Regions from separate parts of the Homo sapiens genome. Here region 2 is linked to region 1. The links come from fine-mapping of genetic effects on gene expression. A gene starts in region 1. The other region holds a variant in brackets. All regions are shown on one strand. Distances are from middle to middle. Region 1 holds the start of DAAM2 (dishevelled associated activator of morphogenesis 2). Region 2 overlaps DAAM2 (dishevelled associated activator of morphogenesis 2).

Region 1 (10,493 bases):
GACTAGATTTGGTGCAATGAAACTTAAGTTAACCCTTGAGGACTGATGGGGATTGCTGGCCGACACAGCAATTGGTCATACAAAAGCACCTCACTCACACTTCCTGGGGCCTGATCTGTGTTGTCTTAAAAGGACACCATTTATCTCAGAAACCTCACATTAGTCTTTCTTCACACAAGCTTACTGACTGCCTATTTTTTCCTACTTCATCCCTTGATCTACCTTGTGATACTGGATTTAGATTTTGACTTTTGTCTAGTTAGTTCTCTATGTGGCTGATTGCTAGTAACTACAGCAACTACCATAGCTATAGCTAATGTTACTCTCCGCCAGGGGCTGACAACCCTCACAGTCATCCTATGAGGGAGGTATTTTATTATCATCCCCACTTTTCAGATGCGAAAACTGAGAATCAGAAAGGTGAAATAATTTGCAAGCTCTTTTAATAGGTAAGTGTTCCAGGAATCATACATAGGTTTATCTGATTCTAGAACCCATATTCTTAACAACCATGCAGTAATGACCTTCCCTAAGCTACTATACTTGCTCTGTTCATGTCTGGGATCCAGAGCAGGAGCCAGCAAACCTTTCCTGTGAAATGCTAGATGGTAAATGTTTTCAGCTTTGTAGGCCATGCAGTCTCTGTCACATCTACTCAACTCTGCCATTGCAGCACGAAAGCAGCCATAGGCAAAGCACAAATGAACAGAGATGGCTGTGTTCCAATAAAACTTTATCTATAAAACAAGATGACAAGCTGGGTTTCACTGTTGAAATTGACAACTTCTAATCTATGGTATCTTGTTCATTTGTTCATCTACCCAATGTTTATTGAGCACTTACCTTGTAGCTGGCACTCTCCTAGGCTCCAGGGATACAGGGAGAACCATACGAAGTCTGCACCCTCATAGGGCTTAAATCCTAGCAAAGTCTTGGCTGTTTCTTTTTCCCATGCCTGGTATCCTGGGTCCTAACTTTGGTGCTTTTCACTCCTCTTAGACCAGTGATTCTCAGCTTAGACTTCAGATCACCTGGGAAGCTTACAGAACTGTGGACGCCTAGGTTCCATTCCCAAGGAGTCTAATTAAATTGATCTGGGGTGGGCCCAAGCATTGATACTTTTACAAGCTCCCCCAAGTGGTTCTAATGTGCAGCCAGGGTTGAGACCCACTGCTTGGGGAACAGTTTGTTTTCTGTTTATTCCACTTACTTAAGGTGTGAAATATGGTAAGTTTTTTAAGTCCTCAGAATTTGGGCTGTGAAATGTGGTTAATATCAATCTCATATGATTGTCAACGATGTTTAAATGAGACAATGTACCTTTCAAATGATACAATGTTATATAAATTTAAAATACTGCTGTCATTGTGACATCATTATTAGATTTTAATGTTAGGTACTGCCTCAATGATTTCTGTCCTCAGTTTGACCTTGATTCTCAGGACAGTATTTGAGCTTTTTAAACAAGCTCTATGGAGAGCTCACTAAATAGCCCAAATTCATGGGTGAGTGAGCTAGTGGCCTTTCCTTTATTCCAATAGAGGGTCACATGGGGCTGCCATTTGCTTGGCATGGGGAGCACTGTTCTGTGCCCCACTTTTGTATAAAGGGTCTCCATCTCCAGGCTGAGATATCTGACCTCCAAGCACAGTTGTTAATCCTTGAATAAGTGGCTTATTTACTTTGACCTGTGGACAAATGTCTAAACCCATGTATTTTCACGGACTTAGAACTGGAGAGGGGAATGGCATTAACATTTTACTGAGCAGTTTGCTAGCTTCTTCCCTTATATCATTCCATTTCATTTTCAGAACAACCCTGGGGAATGAGAATAGTTATTGTTCTCATTTAACAGATAAAGAAGACTCAGAGAGGTTAGCAAGCTTGTGACCTGGTGGTGCCAGAACTCAAATCTCTGTCTGCTTGATTCTAAAGCTCTTCCTTGGAACCATAGGATGTACCACAAATAATTCAGCTCCTCTTTGGCCAGGATTGAAAGAGACATCAAACTGCCTAAAGTTCATTTTTTTTTTACAGGTTTTTTTTTTTTTTTTTTTTTTGGAGGGGGACCCCAGAAAGAAACCCATAACACCTATTAATAACCATAGTCTGATAAGTCTTGGCCAGTGCTAGCATAACGCTGCACAGGTTCCAAGAACAGGCACTTACTTCCTCCCCCCACAGCATCTTGACTGTGCAGTTTTAGAACCTCATAATGAAACAAAAAACAAACCAAAAAATGTGGAGAGAGTTGGAGAAATAGATGCTGCCAAGAGTGAGGAATTCACTGACCCCCGCTCTGGGCCATCTCAAGAGAAGTTGACCACTGGTTGAGCCTCTTAAAAGCTTAAAAGTCATCCCAGGCCATGGTTAAAGAGAGAGCTTGAACAAAACAAAAACAAATGTGATCTTCAAAATCTTAAATGTCAACTTGAAGGATAACTTACAAGCTTTGAGATGGGCCAAGAGGACCTGCAGCTGCTCTCTAACATCAGATGTTCCTTTGTTCCTTTGGAGTAGTCACTCCCTTGGATAATGTATCAATCAGGGTTCAGGGGGCAGCCTCCCACCCCATACCCACTGGAGATGTTTGCAATGACTAAAGCTTTCATTCTTTACAACCCATCAGATTCCCCCATTACTCTGACCTGAGCACCCTTGACAAGGAGTGGCTGCCTACCCGCTCTCTGACTCAGGCTTGTCCTTCAAGATCCAATTGGTCCTTGACCCTCCTGCCCTACCCCCACCTCCCTACCTTTCCCCTCCCCACCATACTTATACAACCTGCTCTTCTGTCCTTCTCCCTCCCTAAAGAGCACAAACACAAGAGTGATTTCTAGGCCAGACATCCAGGATCCCTGGTTTCTTCTCCCACACTTCAGGATAATGGACCAGGGATGCTCATGGAATATCTTCATTGGTCACCTTTTCTAGAGGAAGGAAGTAAGGATGATCAGAGCCCTAGAAACTCCACCCACTAGCCTTCAATCATGGAAAATATGTAGCTAGATTTGGGGAGAGGTTCTTTCCAAGCAATACTGGCTTGTGATGGCTGAAAAACTGAAAAATAAAAATACAGCACTCCCTTTATGAAGGGTCTTATAACATTCTGAGCTCTGTTCTTAGTTCTTGTGCATAAATGTTTTCATAATGACCTGGGGAGGGAAATACTATCCTTATTTTACAGATGAGGAAGCTGAAGCTCAGAAGGAATAAGTCATGTAGCCCAGGTTACTAATTCGTATTTAGGTCACAGTTCTCTCTCTCCAGGCAGCTGATCAGAAATCTGCACTCTTTCCATTGTTGTCGGGCTGCCTCTGAAGTCTAGGGCTGAATGACACAGGATCCTTGACAGAGTCTCTGGCTGTTGAGATCTAGAGGGTCATCCGCTATCAAAGCCAAGGATATCCTTCAACTTGTTCTTTCTGCCAGCTGTGTTTGCCCTCTGGACCTTCAAGGATGTCTTGGAATGCATCCCATCTACTTAATCTAATCTCAAAGATGACCAAAGAGCTGGCCAGAAGATTGAACTGATAGAATGAGCCATGAGAAGGCTTCAATGTCAGCCTAGGCATCCATGGCCTGGGAATTCATCCCGGCCATAGTGAAATGTCTCCTAGTACAAGCCCAGAAGCATCAGGACTCCACTGATCCCACATGCAGCACTCCCAGAAACCCCACATGTAGAAAGAGTTGAAAACCCAGTTCTTGCCCCTCACCTGTCCCTGAGGAGTTGTATGCTGGGATAAGAGTATTTCTGGGAATCCTGTTCCGAGGGGTCCCTTCTGTCCCTGGGTAGTCTTCTATGTTTAAATAATGGAAATGAATGAGAACATTTAAACTTGTTACTTCCATTGGCTCTAGTAAAATCAAATAAGAAAGCCTCATCTTTCATTATCTCTATGCTTTCTCTACTGCCTGTACTTACCCTTTATCTTCATTCTTTACACCTGGATCCAAGGCTCTTTAGTAATGGGGAGTTTAATCTGTTTTGCATCAAAAACTTTGGAGACAGTCGGGAAAGAAGACTGGGGAGAGAACATGTTCTCACAGCAAGCAGTAGTATTTCAACTTCCTCCACGCTCACCAAAAACAAAATCATTTACAGGCCTTCCTATTGGTCTTGCCTGCACAGCCTCCGCCTTCTTGAGCCCCTGACTCTCTAAGTTCTAATGCCCAGGAGAATGTTCTCTCCTCTTTTTGTCCTGATGGGGGCACGAGTATTCCCTCAGCATCCGAGGCGCTGGAGGAAAAGCTCTGAAAACTCAGCTGGGAGTTAGGAGCCAGAGTTTGCAACTACCAGGGAGCAAGACAATAATAGCACAGTTGTTTGCATAAAGGAAGAAATGGGGGTTAGATGGAGTTCCCAGCACAGATGAAGAAATAGACCATTTATCCTCCCATGTCTAAGGCCATGGCCATCACCACACAGTCATGTATGTGTAAAAACACATAGGCATGTGCATCTCATGGGGACCAGTCACTCCTGTTTACATGCACCCTTGTTTACATTGCCTATGGGATGATTTCCTCCTCCTTCATTACACTTCAGTTGACAACGTACTCCTGAAGTTAAATGAGTCTGTTTCTGACATTGCTGCCTGCTCCATCTTTTATGGAGCTTCCCTGGGGTTCAATTTATATAATTTCTAAAATCCTTCCTGAATCTTAACTTCCTGTGGGTCTGTTTTTACATCCAGATTTCCTCCCTGTCCCTTCATTTTCTCATTTTTCTAGGACAGAGGGAGAGTCCAGTAATCTTCCTCCCACCCAGACATTGTAGGTTGGCTCTACTGCAAAATACAAAACCAGAGACCTGGCTAGCTCAAAGCTGAAAATTCAGTCTGTCTGTGGTCACTCGTTTGTGGAACCCAGCTATTGACAGGCAGTGCCTGGCACTGTGCTACTCAGGGATGATGGATCGATACAGCCTCACTGCTGCTTTTTTCCCCTACTCTCCGTGGAGCACACTTTCCGCCCTAGGCCCTAGGGAAAATCCATCCCCCGCTTCAGCTGGCTTTGCAAAGAAACTCAGGAAACTAACACCAAACTCAGAAGGGGGAAAACACAAGACTTTGAACTTTTTAAAGATGGGAAGCTGCTTTCATTCCCACGTGGGCATCAAGGGAAAACCTATGGGGACTCTTTTCCGGAGAGGTGTGATTTTCCTCTAACCCTCCGAGAAACGTTCCAAATCCACTCCAAAACTGTGGAGAAGTGGCCGAGGCAGAGAGAGAAGAGTTAAATCAAGCCCAGATCTCAGCAATCTGTGTTCAATTTTGATAAAAATCTCCCTCTCCCCCACCGCCCCCCTTCCTCCACCCCACAGCTCAGACACGTCTCTTTATGTTAGGAGCTTGCATCTTGTTTGGGGCACCACACGCGGCACTCCTGGAGAACCTGGCACGTACCTCACCGTGGCCATGTGGCAGAACCAACCATCCCACTCCCAAGCTACGGCTGGACACAGGGCCACAGCGTCCTGGCCATCACCACCACCTCCCCCTCTTCCTTCTCATCCTCTTCACAAAATTACCTGCCGCCAGACCAAGTCCCTCATTCCCCGGTTAAGTCAGAGTCCCGACGCCTGGTAAAGTCAGGGCATGAGGTTGGTTTGCGACCGCAGGTGCTGAGAGCCCCAGAGTCCGGGGACCCCTTTCCTGAGATGCTCCTTCCCCCGCCCAGGGTCCCACTGCCACTGAGAACAAGAACCTTACGGCTGCCCTGCCCACTGGCCAGAGGCCAGGCCTGCAAGTGGGAGCTGGGGGCTTGTGAAGACTTCAGCCCAGCCAAGTGAAGGTTCAAGCCGAACCCGGAAAAGCCACCACCAAAAAGTTGTCAGTTTTGCGGGGTATCTTCTGTGTTTGTCCACTTGTGACAACCAGGGGTCAGGTTTCAAAGCCGCAAAAAACATTTTTAAAAAGTTTTCCAAAGACATTTCCTATGTCCAGATGTGCCAGTACAGACACACGCAATCACACTCATACACACACACAACTCACACACACACAGGCCCTGGGAGCCCACTCCGGGGTCGGCGGCTCCTGCAAACACTTTGGAGAAACAAAACCGCCAGCCTGCGGAGCTGCTGCCTCCCCAAGCCCCGCGGGGCATGCTAAAGAAAGCAGAGGGAGAGAAGTGTGGGAGCCCAGCGGAGAGGGCTCCCCGCGGCCCGGGCCCCAAGACGGGGAGCGCCAGGGCCGGCCGCACTTACTCCGAGGACCCCAGGGCGCCCGCGCTCCCGCAGCCCGAGGTACGGCGCCGCCGCCCGCGCTCCGCTCGCTGCTGCGTGCTCCGCGCTATCCCCGGGAAGCCGCGGCTGCCGCCCCTCCAGGCCCGGCCTCGCGCCCGTCCGCCCGCCCCGCTCTGACGTCAGGCGTCTTGGAGCGGGATATTTATGGCAAGGTTACTCTGAATTTTCCCTAGGTAGACTTCTGATTGCAGTTTCTTGGGATTTGTAATTTTCACACTTTCAGACCGAACGCAGGCGGGGGGAGAGCGCCACCGGCAGGGCGAGGCGTACAATGAGGGTAGCTGTTCCCCACTTTGGCAGGGAGCGTTCTCAGGGCCCCTTCTGTTTTGGAAACATGGAAGGGTCAAAGAGGCAAAAGTGGCCACCTGGGCAGCGGGTTTCTCCCCGGCTCCTCCTCTGGGCTACGGGCAAATGGCCTGGTCTGAGGCCGGCTCGGAGGTGAAGGTCCCGGTGCCAAGGAATCCCCTGTCCCTCCCCAAAGTGTCCCTGCACTGGACAGTGTGTCCCAAGGGGTGCTGGGCAAGACAGGAGCGAAATCAGGCACAACAGAACAGCTAATTAGGAGTCCTGGTCCACGCCCTAACAACTTTTCCATTTCTTTTTTGGGAGTGTATATATATTTTTTTAAGTTTATTTTTATTAAATTATGTTCCACACTCCCTGCCTCTGTATAGCTTTTCCAATTCAGTGCCAGTCAATTCATCTTACTTCATTGCTTGTATGCATAGTTTGAGCAGTTTACAATAGCTCTTATTCATACTTTTAAAATTTCCTTTTAGTTTTTTTTTTTCTTTTTTTTTTAAATGTGATTGTGGTCTGTCTCCTTGACTGAACTAGAGATTGCTTTGGTCAAGAGCAATTGTCCTCTCTGGGATTGGCAACACCCTCACGGGGAGTATTTGATCTTCTCTGTTTCCTATTTTCCCCAGCTCCCTCTGCAAGCAAATGGTGCCCCCACTGGGTGATGACCTGTATACAGTTTTCTGGGTGTTCAGTGGTTGTTCTGTGTTAGTGGTTGTCTGTTTCTCCACCTCACCAAAGGGGCTTAGGGAAATGGCTTGGTTTAAGGGCCACCCTTCCAGAGAAAAAAAGAGAATGTAATGCATGATCTTCCAGAGGAAAAAAAAAAAAAAAAGAGAATGTAATGTGTTATCCTTCATGGTTCCCAAGGATTGGAGAATGAAATGAACTTAAAATGATACACGTGAGATGCAAAATACTTATATGGTTAGACAACATAAGTGTTTAGGTATTCATCTCACCATGAATGGGAGGGGGCACGGATAATTGCAAATCATCATTAAAACACAACTATAGTGAACTTTCCATTAGCCCAAACTGGTAGAGGCGGGGTTGTGTTTTAACCACAGTTACAGTGCAGCAGGGACTCAAGGACTTGGAATGTGTTTACCTCTTTGGCAGCAGCTGGTTAGAGCTGATTGCCAGAAGGAGCTGTCTTAGGGCTGGGCCTCTCGGTAGAGGCCACGCTGTTTTGACCCAAGCCACCGAGGGCCCTGCAGCAGGGAGCTGCTGTTTGGTCACTGTGGGATTGCTCTCCCTGGCATAATACCCCACTTTTACCTCCTTCCATTCCCTCTCTCATATCAAGGCTCCACTGGCAAGGTGAGCTCTGTTCTTCAGCAGACCCTGCAAATAGGTTTCCAGAAGCCATTGACAAACCCATTCTCCCTTGCCTTTCTCAACTAAAGAAGTTAGAAATCTACAATATTCACCATCCCAGACTCCCTGGTAGCTCACAATTGCTATGAGACCAAGTTCTGACCAGTGAGATTGTAATACAGAAGACAGAGGATGCCTTCCACAAACTCTCTTTAAGAGAAGATCAGATTTGGCCAGGCGCGGTGGCTCACGCCTGTATTCCCAGCACTTTGGGAGACCGAGGCGGGCGGACCACGAGGTCAGGAGATCGAGACCATCCTGGCTAACACGGTTAAACCCCGTCTCCACTAAAAAATACAAAAAATTAGCCAGGCGTGGTGGTGGGCGCCTGTAGTCCCAGCTACTTCGGAGGCTGAGGCAGGAGAATGGCGTGAACCTAGGAGGCGGAGCTTGCAGTGAGCCGAGATTGCGCCACTGCACTCCAGCCTGGGCGACAGAGCGAGACTCCGTCTCAAAAAAATAAATAAATAAATAAATAAATAAATAAATAAATAAATAAATAAAAACACAAAAAAAGATAGGGCCAGAGACTCAGAGGTGGCAGGTTGGGGACATCATGAGGACAGAAACAGGGGAAGTGAGGCTGAGGAGCAAGCATTCTAGGTCTGGGAGAGGGGAGTCTCTCCATCCTTGCCCAAGTGTTTTGGAGGCAGGGTCTCTCTCTGTCACCTAGGCTGGAGTGCAGTGGCACGATGATAGCTCACTACAGCTTCGAACTCCTGGGCTCAAGGGATTTTCCCACCTCAGCCTTCCCAGTAGCTGGGACTACAGGTGCATGCCACTAGGCCCTGCTAACCTTTTTTTTTTTTTTTTTTTTTTTTTTTTTTGTAGCGATGTGGTCTTGCTATGTTTCCCAAGCTAATCTCAAATTCCTGGTCTCAAGCAATTCTCTCAACTCGAGAGGCCGAAGCGCTGGGATTACAGGTGTGAGCCATTGCGCCTGGCCCCCAAGCATTCTTAATTGGGTTCTATTGGGATGAGGAGCAAGTGAAATTCATAAAATACGTGGCTGTCAGTGCTGAGGAGCTGTTTTTGAGGTTGGCAAGCCCTGAAGAGTCCATGAAGTAGTAGGGCCCACTCGAAGATCATCTGATTCACTCCCTACCCCCAGCCCTATCACTCACAGGGTCCTAATGTGGGAGTCTCTCCTATTCTCAAGATTCCCAAGAAAGGGGTTTCATCCTTCTTCACCTGCATATTCTAGGAATGTTCCCGGAACATACAGTGAGGCCCTCTGTAGCACACTACTCATCTGGAAAATTGTACCTGCTTGATGAAAGATTCTCAAATAGCACATTATGGTTGACCTGGCTTCCAAAGCTCACTATATACTTCCAAGGCCCAGCCTATCATGATAAGAAGCAGGCTTCACAAAAGTCACTTGCTCACTCTCCAGGGGTAGAGATCCTAGTCTAGTACAGCATGGACCACAATAGCACTCCATAAAGACTTTCTGAAGAATAAATGAAGGCCCCATGAATATGTCATCTAATCAATATGTGACTCTCCGCAAATAACATATACCTTTCTCTGATTTACTATTGTGGACTATAGCAAGTGTTTGAACCAAAGACCTTGGTTAAATCCCAGCCCTGCCTCTCACTGCTGTGTGACCTCAGCATGGCAGGAAACTTTCTCAAGCATAGTTTTTGTGATGGTTAACTTCATGTGTCAACTTGGCTGTGCCACAGTGCCCAGATAGTTGATCAAGCATTATTCTGGATACTTCTGTGAAGGTGGTTTTGGATGAGATTAATATTTAAATTGGTGGACTTTGAGTAAAGCTGAGTACCCTCCATAATGTAGGTAGGCCTCATGCAATCAACTGAAATTCTTAATAGAACAAAGACTGACCCCCACCCCGCAAGAGGGAACTGTGCCAGCAGACTGCCTCAGGACTCCAACTGCAATGCTTCCCTGGGTCTCCAGCCTGCTGGCCTACCCCTGCTGGTCTACCCTCCAGATTTTAGACTACCAGGCCTCCATAATTACATAAGCCAATTCTTTAAAATCAGTCTCTCTCTCTCTCAATATTCATATACTACATCCTGTTGGTTGTTTCTCTGAATCTCCTATTAGTAGGAGAATCCTAAAAAATACAGTGTTCTTCAACAACAACATGGGATGAAAATTATTCCACCCTAAAGTATTGTTGTAAAGTTCAAATGAAGCAAAATAAATTGAAAGCCTCTACCTCAATAAGTTCTTCTGAAACTTGGAAGGAAAAGGATGCCTCAAAATTTCAAAGTCTTTTTCATCCTACCACTTATGTGGTCAGTATCAATCTGCTGGCTCTTAGACTCTGTTCAGGGAGGTGTCAAACTTTGTTATCAGGTGTGCTGTTAATGCCTAGAAGGCAGAAGCAACTTGTCTTGAACTGGACCCCATCCAGCACAGACACATCACACTTCAGGTATTTTGATCATGAGCCTGATCCTGGGGCCTATCCTGCTTCTGTCACTTCTAGTAAGGGATACAACCTCCACTGTTCAGGACAAGACTCCTGGACTTCTATTATCTCACGGTAACTTCCAAGGATACAGCTAAAGAGAGAAAAAGC
Region 2 (10,493 bases), 33 kb before region 1:
GATTGTGGGGATTAATTGTGGGGATTAATTTAGTGAGTCAGGTACAGTGATTAGGGTAGCACCAGGCACCTATTCAGCACTAAGTGTGAATAACTCACACCCTCTCAGTGAGGTCTTTCAAGGGCATCTGAAATAGCAGCCCCGCTCCCAGCACCTCCCATCTCCCTTCCCTTCATTTTCCACGTAGACTTACCACCACCTGACAGACTATACATCCCATGTATTCATTATCCCTCCCACAAGAATGTATATTCCATGGGGCATTTTTGTCTATCATTCATTGCTGTATCCGCAGTGACTAGAATTACTACCTGGTACATAATAGGCCCTTGTAATAAAGAAGGAATATATGAAACTTACTAACTGTGTAGACTTAGGCAAGTTACATAACTCCCCACATGCCTTAGTTTACTCATCTGAGAAATGGAGATGATGCCCACACCCTCACGTTGATGTGAAGATTAAATGAGGCAACATTTGTAAATATGCCCACTCCGGTCCTTGGTACATGGTCGACCTGAGAGGACCAGTTTCTGCCTGATGGAGGAAGGGCCTGAAATGGTTAATCCCTGACTCTCCTCCCCCATGCAAAGCTGGTCCGGACTGCAGGGCCACTGGCAGCTATCCAGGTGGAGGCTAAATGTCAGAGGTGTGTGCCTGCAGAGCTGCCCTGGTCCTGATGCAGTCTTGACCCAGGCAGCTGGAGCCCCTCGCCACCCCCTCCTGCTGCCTGGGCCTGGAGCATTTGGGAGTGCAGGAGCAGAGTGGTGGGAACCTCCGCAGGCCTGGGTCCCACGCCACATCCTGGCCTTGGGGGAGGTGGGCCCAAGGCCTGGACTTGCTTCCCAGCTATTCCCAGGCGGCCCTCTCTCCTGCTGGCCCAGCTGCACTGCCTGAGCCGGAGGGCCACAGGGGTAGGTCTGTCTGTCAGCATCACTTGTCCCCACTCACGATGAAGAAGACGCAGGCCTCAGCACAAGCACAGTCTGGACTCAGAGCCCCACTCTGTCAGCCCTGAAGCCCACCTGCCTCCCTCCCTGGGAGGGAGTGCGTGGAATGACAGTCACAGAGGACTCACCGGACCCCAGCGACTCCAGCCTGTGGCTTCCCAGATTTCTCCAATTTCTCGCAATGCCCCAGCTTTTCAGCAACTTCTCTGAGAGTCATGCCTCTCCATGACGGACCCAGAAAAAGATGAAAATAGATAGACACAGGCTTCAGTGTGAATGCTGAAGATGAAATAAATGCAGTCCAGCATTGCCCCATGGGCATCCACTCCACAACCATCTATGAACCCCCACTCTGGGCCAGACACTGTGCACTGTAGGATGCGGCAGTGAATAAAACACAGACCTGATTGTAAAAATCTCCCAGTCGGAAAGGGGGTACAAATGTGAGCAGGCCGGGGTAGTGGGCAGAAGTATCTTGGTGGAGCTGTACAGGGAATGATGAGAGTATGGATGAAGGGTCTCTAACTCAGCGTGGGGAAGGAGGGAGCATGAGAAATCTAGAAGGGTGGTACCAAGGTGCTTCTGGCCAGCAACAACTTGGGGGAGAACAGAGGAGCTAATAAATGGAGAAATGATATTTCCCACCAAGGGGCCGGCTCAGAACGGCTCTGGGGAGGGTGCCAGCTTCAACTCCCATCCTCCCAATCTTCAAGCACTTTTACCAGAAACTAAGCCCTCTGAGGGCAGGGACCAGGTTCAGTCTGCATCCCTAGAATGAGGACAGGCATATATGGCAGGCACTGAGTAGAAATGTCTGAGTGTGCCAATGAATAAACAAACCCCTGAAGGTAAGATCACTACTGACCCAGGGACATGTTGCTTTTTTGTTATCCCACAGACATTAACATAAATTTCTATTGCCCAATTTCCTCTTGGTAAGTGTAAGAACCCTCACAGGCTATAAACTCTCCAACTGGTGCCAAATGAGGTATCACTCAGCCTCCAACACAAGCCTCTTAAGAGGGAACCAACCATGGGGTTCTGTCCATCACCCTGAGTGCTGCCAGCCTCCCCATCGATGGTCACCACAGTCACACTCCTTTGGTACACCCTGGGAAAAGCCGCAAGAATCACACACCACTGAGGATAATGGCCAGAAAGTCACTGCCAATGTTTGTGGCTCAGTATTTACAGAAAAACAGGATCATTCTGTGCTTGCTACCCACAACCAGTCATAGGCGCATGTGCAGGCCCATCCACACACCCTGTGTGGAACACACAGCCCGCTCCCCAGGCCCCTGCCATCAACAAAAGTATACAAAGAAGAGATGCCAATTGGATTTATCTGTTTAAACAGCATCCCGTGAAGCTGGTCCCTGGGTGAATTATCCAAACAGTAACCATTCTTGCTTCTTTCTTAAAGAAAAACTGTAGAGAGCATAAATTCTCCTTGCATCTCTGCTATTCATTCATGCAGCCAATATTTAATAAGGACCTACTATGCGTTAGCCCCTGCTAGTGGAACTGTGCTATGGTTTGCATGTCTGTGTTCCCTCCAAAATGCATATGTTGAAACTTAATCTTTGTTGCAATAATACTAAGGGTGGGGCCTTTTGGGAAGTGATTAAGTCATGATGGCTCTACCTTCATGAATGGATTAGTGCATTATAAAAAGGCGGGAGGCAGAGGCGGGCAGATCACAAGGTCAGGAGATCAACACCATCCAGGCCAACATGGTGAAACCCCGTCTCTACCAAAAATACAAAAATTAGCCGGGCATGGTGGCACGCACCTGTAGTCCCAGCTACCCGGGAGGCTGAGGAAGGAGAATCACTTGAACCCGGGAGGCAGAGGCTGCAGTGAGCTGAGATCGCACCATTGCACTCCAGCCTGGCGACAGAGCAAGAATCCGTCTCAAAAAAAAAAAGACGGAGGGGGGTGGAGGGAATTAGCTTAGGCCCTTTTAGCCCTTCCATTCCTTCTGTCATGTAAGGACACAGTGTTCTTCCCCTCCAGAGGAAGGAAAGGAACACAGACATGCAAACTATAGCATAGTTCCACTGGCAAGGGCTAATGCATAGTAGGTCCTTATTAAATATTGGCTGCATGAATGAATAGCAAAAATGCAAGGAGTACCTATGCTCTTTACAGTTTTTCATTAAGAAGCAACAAAACACCACCTTAGGAGCAGAGGGCAGCCCTCACCAGACAACAACTCTGCTGGCACCTTGATCTTGCACTTCCCAAAGTCCAGAACCATGAGAAATGTTGTTTTGGTTTATAAATTACCCAGTGTGTGGAATATTGGCACAAATGGACTAAGACATACTAGAAATGCAAAACTGAACCAGTCAGGGCTTTGCATTCTGGAAGCTAATAGTCTAGCGAGAGTCAGACAGAACAGTGGTTTTCAAACATTGTGCTCAGTGCTTCATCAGGGACAGGCCTGTGGGAGCACAGGTGAGAGGGAACCCTACTACCTGAAATTGGTGGGGAGGAGGAGGCGTTAGAGAGACTTTGTAGGTGTGGTGATTTTTGGGCTGAGTCTCCAAGGACAGCGAGGCGTTCCCCAGGTATGAGCCTTCAGGTAGCAGGGAGGGCAGGAGTTAGAAGTGTGAGCGGCAGGGCAGGCAGAGCTTGGGCAGCTGGCAAGATGACCCAAGAAGTACTCCAGGGCTCAGACATGAAGGGACTATACCCCTTGAATTCTGAAACTGGGTTTGTGATTTTCCAGATTCCCCTTTGGTCCATTAAGAGAGTTCATTCTCAGACCAAGGGGGTCAAGGGGTATCACACTTCACACAAAGACAGAGACCCTGAAGAGTAATCCAGGCATGAGGACCCCAAGGAAAAGAGTCAGGGAGAATCCTCCAGCCACTGTTTCTGAAGCCCAGGCCCCTGCATCCTACCAGGCCCGGGGGCACCTCCATGAGCCCACACACACAGAGCCAAGGCGTGAGTGAGGGCCACCATTCCCTGGGGTGGTGAAGCACCATTCCACAAACCCAGACCCAATAATCAGACTCTGAAAAAGACTACCCCCGCCCCACTTCAGCTCCTGGATAGCTGTGCCTTCCCCTCTTGAGATGTCACACTCCCCACCTGTGTGCAAATGGACTCAACTCCTCCTTTCTCCGACATGATCTGCAGGACGCCCCTCATACAGCTGCTGGCATGCACAAGACGTTGAGAATGAAGGTACTACCATTTAAAGACCGCTTTACAGGCGAGAAACTGAGGCCCAAGAAGCAGGCTACTTGCCTCAGGACCCACAGCAAACTCATGCCACAGCCATGTCTAGAACCCAATTTTCGAATTCACAGCACAGAACTCTTCTCTCCCACTACAGAACAGTCGCAGACAAATTCTGCTTTGCTTCCTGGTTTCTCCTGAGTTTCTACTTAAGTGGAAACAACAACTACAAAAATGCAATATAAAAACAAAAATTAAAAATTCCAAAAATCTTAGCCAAGATTCATTCATGAATATTTCCCCTAAATATTGTGAGCCCTGCTAGGATCCAAGCTACACCGCCTCTCTCTTTAAATATTCTCAAATACTCCAGGAAACTGATTCCCAACTTCTCCTGATTTCCTCACCTCAGATTTTCTCTTTGAAGCTTGAAGGGTACTTAGAAACTTCTCTTTAAAAAGAGAAGGTGCTCCTGACAGTCATTCCAAGACATTTGGATTTGCCAAGTTGAAGTTACAGAAACCTGTGACTATGCATACTAATTATTATTATTTGCCTACCATTAGTATGCTTTTTCACATTTCACATCTGATTTTTTATGTACATTTTTCTTAATTTTTGTGTGCAAACAGTCCTAATATGAAGTGAAAAAAATCACTGGCAAAAGGAGAAAAGCAAACAAACTAGCCTGGTGTCCAGGGATTCAAGAATTTCAGGAGGATCGTGAGGCAAATTGGATATGTTCTCCAGGAAAGGGGAGCTATTGGGCATATCAGCTACACAACCGATCACCTGAGGATTCCACTGGAAATGAAAAAGAGAGAAAGAGAAGGAGTCGAGAGTCCCCCAAAACCCTAAGTGGCTTCTCCCCAGCTTTAGGACACCACAGGGATGCTCACCTTTTAAGAGACTTGCTTTCCTAGAATAGCCCCAGCCCCTCACTTTGGGATTGTGCTGTGAATGACAAAGTACTCATGGCAGGGAGCCCAGAGAGTTCCAGCAGGTAAGGAGAAGACCCTCGAAAGTAAAATAAAAAAAAAATCTGCTACTAACTGGCAGTTATTTGAACTAGTTATACCAGAGACCAGGAGCAGGCCGCACAATCGCTTCTTCCCCAGGGCTCTTCTCCTAAGCTGAGAAGATGCCAGCCGTGTGTTTATCATTTCTCCCCACTATCTTTTAAGGCAGCCACATCCCAAGCCAGCAGGCAGAAGCTGGACCAAGACACATGTCCAATGGGGAAGGAGGCCAGGTTCACTGCACTAGGCATGAAATACGCCTTATCTCATATTTGCCAACACACCTGCACCATGGGGACACATAAAATGTGAACCTCATTCCCATTTCCCATTAGAAATTAAGAGATTCACAAAGCCCAAATAATGTGTGCTGGGCCATTTAGCAATGATAGAGCAGGACTGGGTCTCCCTCCAATTCCATTCTACCCAAGAGGTACAAGGACCACTGCATGTAGTGTGCAGGCTGTGAACTGCAAGAGAATCCCACATCCAAGGAGATACATGAGCCCACCCTGCCTGCAGGGCTTGTACACCTGGGAAAGAGTACACTCAGTACACTCAGTACAGATATCGGGGTGCAGAAAGCCAGTCCCACCTATGCTCCCTTGACTCCCCC[C/G]ATTCCCACCTGCCCAATCACAGCCACGGTGGGAGCAGGGGAAGGACATATCTTATCCCTGGTACGATGGAGAGGGTGTGTGATCAGGTGACAGGGTGATTCTGTGAGTGAATGCACAGCCAGGCTCAGGAAAGTGCCCCCCAACACACACACACTGGCAGAGCTGGGCTACTTTACAGGAGTATGCTTAACTATGTTTCCTTCAAGAAACAAAGGCCCCCCACCAACCCCCCGACCTTGTGTTTTGTTTTGTTTTGTTTTGTTTTGTTTTGTTTTGTTTTGTTTTAAACAGTCTTGCTCTGTCACCCAGCTGGAGTGCAGTGGCGCAATCTCAGTTCGCTGCAACCTCCACCTCCCGGGTTCAAGCATTATCCTGCCTCAGCCTCCTGAGTAGCTGAAACTACAGGCGCACACCACCATGCCTGGCTAATTTTTGTATTTTTAGTAGAGAGAGCGTTTCCCCATGTCCGCCAGGCTGGTTTCAGACTCCTGACCTCAGGTGATCTTCCTGCCTTGGCCTCCCAAAGTGCTGAGATTACAGGCGTGAGCCACCGCACCCAGCCTGACAAAGACCCTTCTTAAATTCACATCCAGGCCCTGCATGGCTAAGCAGCCTCTCTGATCAGGCTCCTTCTTGGCAGCTGGCAGGTCAGCTACCTGGGCCCCTCTGAAGCCACCCCAGGTCACCTCTCATCATTCTCCTCCAGGAGTTAGACAGTTGGGATAACCTGGCTCTGGAGAGGAAGACTGGCAAGTCCCAAGAAAGTATTTGTGTCTCCCCCTGCTATTCTCATCCAGCTGGCCTTTCCCCATGGCCCTCACCCATGATAAATGCACCCTGGATGGGGAAAGAGGAACAGAAATTCCATGCTCTGGACCTTGCCTGGAGCTGGCTTCCCAACCATGCGACTTCCGCGGAACCTGCTCTTGCCGAGAAGGCACCAGTGGGTCCTCTCCAGCTCAAACATCTGCCTCCCTCAGCTTGTCCTGCCTGCAGGAGCTGGCCAGCTTCTCCTGCATGCTATGCTGATGCAAAGTTCTCTGTCCTGAATTGGCAGAACCACCTCTGTCAAGGATGTGGGGTTTGTTTTCTTAATTAACTGAAAATGCTAACATGGGAGCCCAGGAGCTGGCAGGGGCCTGGCCTTCAACCGCTGCTAGAAAAAAATCTTGCTTTGAAATCTGGATCTCTAACGCCCCACAGGGGATGTCAAAACAAACAGGGACACTTGATCCTGGAGCACAGGGCCTGGGGCAGGTTCAGGTTACAGGGCCAGAGATGGATTTAGCTACAGGATGCCACAGCAACCAACAGGTGACCAGATCCTGATTTCCCAAAATGGTACAGCTAGACCCCAAGATGCCCCCTGCTGGGGCACGGGCTCTAGGGGGATGGGGAGAGGTCATTGGGATTTATGCCAGCAATACTTCCTGAGTGCCTACTGCCCAGCAGGCACAGAACTGGGGGCGGGGGAGGCTGCAGAGATAGCCAAGTTCTATTGACTCCTGCGCTTGAGGAGATAAAATTAGGAACAAATTACTAATGTGTAGCACAGAAGGCCCCCAGAGCTGAAATATTTACTATCAAGACCTTTGCAGATAATGTTCACTGACTCCTAATGTACAAGACAGAAGAGGGTAGAGTGGAGTCTGGAGAAAAGACGACCAGAATGACCACCCAGGGCCCAGCTGAGGGACAGTAACCAGAGAGTGGAGATACAATGGAGCATCATTCAAAAGCAGAGATGACAGCAAGACCCAAAACCCCAGCAGGGGGAGGAGGGAAAGGAGGTGGAAGAGGATGGAGAGGCAGGGGTCCTCAGTCTCCTGCCTCCAGCCTCCAAGACTGGCAGGACATCCGATCCAGAAAGGATGCTGATTGCCCAGCCCCATCTAAGGGCCAAAGCACCAGGCTAGCATGATACAGCCCTGGATGCCCCCAGGGTGGTGAGGCACAAGTCACATGCACAGTTCTGTACACCAGGGATCATGCGATGGCCTTCTCACCTAACAGCTGGGCCTCAGGAAAGGTCAGAAGTTCTGAATGACCACAAAACATCCCTCTTTGGGAGGAAGTCACACAGTGTTCCAGGGAGGCCCCACACTTCCCCCTTCCCGGCACAAGTCGTCCCATCTGCAAAGGCCCAGAAAGGAGCAAGTTTGCTTGAGGTCAGAGATGCTATGTCAGAGCAGAGCACACCAATCTGAACTCAAGAGTCTTCGTTTTTCCTGACTTGCCTGTTCCTCTCTGAGTCTCTGGCCTAGGTCCATCCTGAGCTTGGAGACCAGCAGGTTGGAAGATTCAGAACCCCCAAGCTGCTTTGCCCCAACCTGAACTCCTCAGTTTTCTTCACCCCCCAGGAGAGGAGGATGTTGAACCATTTCCTCTTGGGACACCCATACTGCACATCTCCCTTCCTGCAGTAGAATCTGTCGATGTAGCCTTTCTTAATCTTTGGGCCTTTGAAGCACACAGTGTAGAGCCCAGTTTGAGAAACAAAGCATTGAAAGTTAAAAACTATCATTTTAGGAAACCACTCGGTGCCAACTTGCACAGAAACACAAACCTGGGGACTAAAATCGCATGCCAATAGTAGGTTATATGGTGGTCATTCAGATGATTCAGAATAAATGCCTCCAATTTTTACAGTATTATTATTAAAATGAAAACAAAGAAACATTTCTCAAGGAAAAGCACATTCTCAAGCAGAGTCTCAGACCTTGGAGAAAACAATCACACAATGTTCCCAGGGGTCTCTGGGGCCCAGTGTGAAGGGCTCTGGCTGGGGGTGAGGACCCAGGCTATGGAGTTAGGCTGCCCTGGACCCTTCCCTGTCCCAGCTGTGTCCTGAGTGCCCTCTACAATGGCTGTCACACAGTAGGCCAGCAATTCAACTTTGTTGAACACACAAATGAATAAATGGTTAGACGACTTAAGAGGTTCATCCTGGCTTTGCCATTTACCAGCCCTGCATCTTTAAGGAAAGGTCCTTAATCTCTGAGCCTTAGTTTCTTAATCTTTGAAATCTACAAAATTAGTCACAAGTCAATAAACTACTGCAAGAATTAAAGGAGATGCAAAGCCTTTAGCAGAGTGATTGGTGCATTCAAGGTACAGAATAAATGGTAACTATTATTGTTACTTTTCAAAAATGGCTTTAATCTCACATCCAAAATATCTTTCCAGCTCTGCACACCTTCCCAATTCCACCATGCCATATTATATTTTGGTAAATCCCCAGCACAAAGCCTGGCACAAGTAGGAACACAGAAAACATCTGTTGAAGCATAATTTAGCAGAAAGTGTCTCTGATTTGGAAACCCTCGGGTGAGTGCCAGGGGCTGAGGCTTCTAGCATTTCCTGCTTCCTCCATGGGAGGCCACCTCTTTGTAACAGACCCCAGCCCTCCAAACTGTACCTGAGCATTCAAGGCCAGGAAGCTCACCTGTGTCCATGCCACAGGAAATGGGACGGGGGCATTTGCTCTGCAGAGGGTGGGGATGCTGGCTGAGCCCATCCCCCTGCTGCATAGACTTCTCCTCCCATTCCTTCTCACTCCAGCTCTGGGGAGCGTGGGCCTCCCCCCAGGCAGCGTTCCCAGGCTTCAGCAGTAACAGGCCCTCCATTCTTCCCTGCCCTTGGCAGACCTGCCTCCTCCCACTACGACACTGTCCGCTGCTGCTCATGGGCAGCTGCCTCAATCCAAGGAGACAACGCAGATTTCTTGGGGCCCAGGCCTGGTCTGTCCCCTGACCCTATAGGAAGAAGAGGAATTGGTCCAAGTCTCCTCCTGAGATACACTCACAGGGTCACTCATTTCACCCTCAGGCTGCAAATGTCACTGGTCTCTGGCATCTTCACAAACAGCACTCACTGACCACACTTTGTTTTTCCCAAATGAGGGAGAAATCTGACATCTGCCCCTCCCGGATCTTCACTCCTTGGGCCAGGCTCCAGCTATGTTCAGATGTCAACCCCCAGCTCCCTGCCTCAAGGTTGACAACCACCAGGATAAGGTGGGGGGCTATCCCCAAGTTCAAGACTCGCTACCCACTGGGGATCCCAGTCCCCACCTCTGTCTCCTCCTTCTCACATTTGCCCATCAGATACCACTGGCAAGAGTCACCAGAACTCAACCCAAAATCTGCAATCCACAATCCAAGGAAGAGGATGTAACGCGGCTTTCTTTCACTTACCAAGTTTATCCAGCTATTTTCCAACTTTCTTTTTAGGAATCCTGAGCTCAGTCCTCAAGAATTATCTTCTGATGTCCCAGAGCTGGGTGCTGGGAGCCCAGGGCCACAGCAGGGGGCTGCAGACAGGGAGTCCTTCTGTGGGCATGGATTCCTGGGGTGGGGTGTGCTTGATTTGAAGCAGTGCCCCCTCCTCTGGAGGCTTCAGTACTAAAATCCAGCCCAGGAGTGTCCCAACCACAGCCCAGCAAGGTATCTAGCAAGGGAGGCAGGGCCACTGTCAGGAGCAGAATGTGTGGCTCTCTTTCTTAAAGGGACAGCCTGCCCCAAGAGCCCGAGGTGGGTGGAAATGCTAGAAAGGAAGGAGCAAGGGAGGATAAGCTAGCATCCTCCAGGGAAAAACTCTGAACACACACCAGTCTGTGACTCGGCACTAGCCTCATCCTGTGGTATGACAAGCTTCTCCACTTTCCTGATGTAGAACATGGAGGCAGAAAGACCCTTCCCCAAGGGAACTCACCT

Evidence for each region. PIP is the estimated chance that this variant, and not a neighbour inherited with it, causes the effect.
Region 2: its variant is fine-mapped to the expression of DAAM2 in whole blood (TOPMed, PIP above 0.99).

The regions. Positions count from the first base shown.
Region 1 is chr6:39,788,187-39,798,679 of GRCh38, reverse strand. It overlaps DAAM2 (dishevelled associated activator of morphogenesis 2), which reads right to left and starts at 6,304. Exons shown (of 25, transcript NM_001201427.2): 1 at 6,215-6,304.
Region 2 is chr6:39,820,955-39,831,447 of GRCh38, reverse strand. All of the region lies in intron 1 of DAAM2 (dishevelled associated activator of morphogenesis 2), which reads right to left. Among named protein-coding and RNA genes, the nearest start is that of DAAM2, 34 kb to the right of the region's middle. RefSeq lists an enhancer at 6,728-7,288. The variant C/G (reference allele first, on the strand shown) is at 5,778.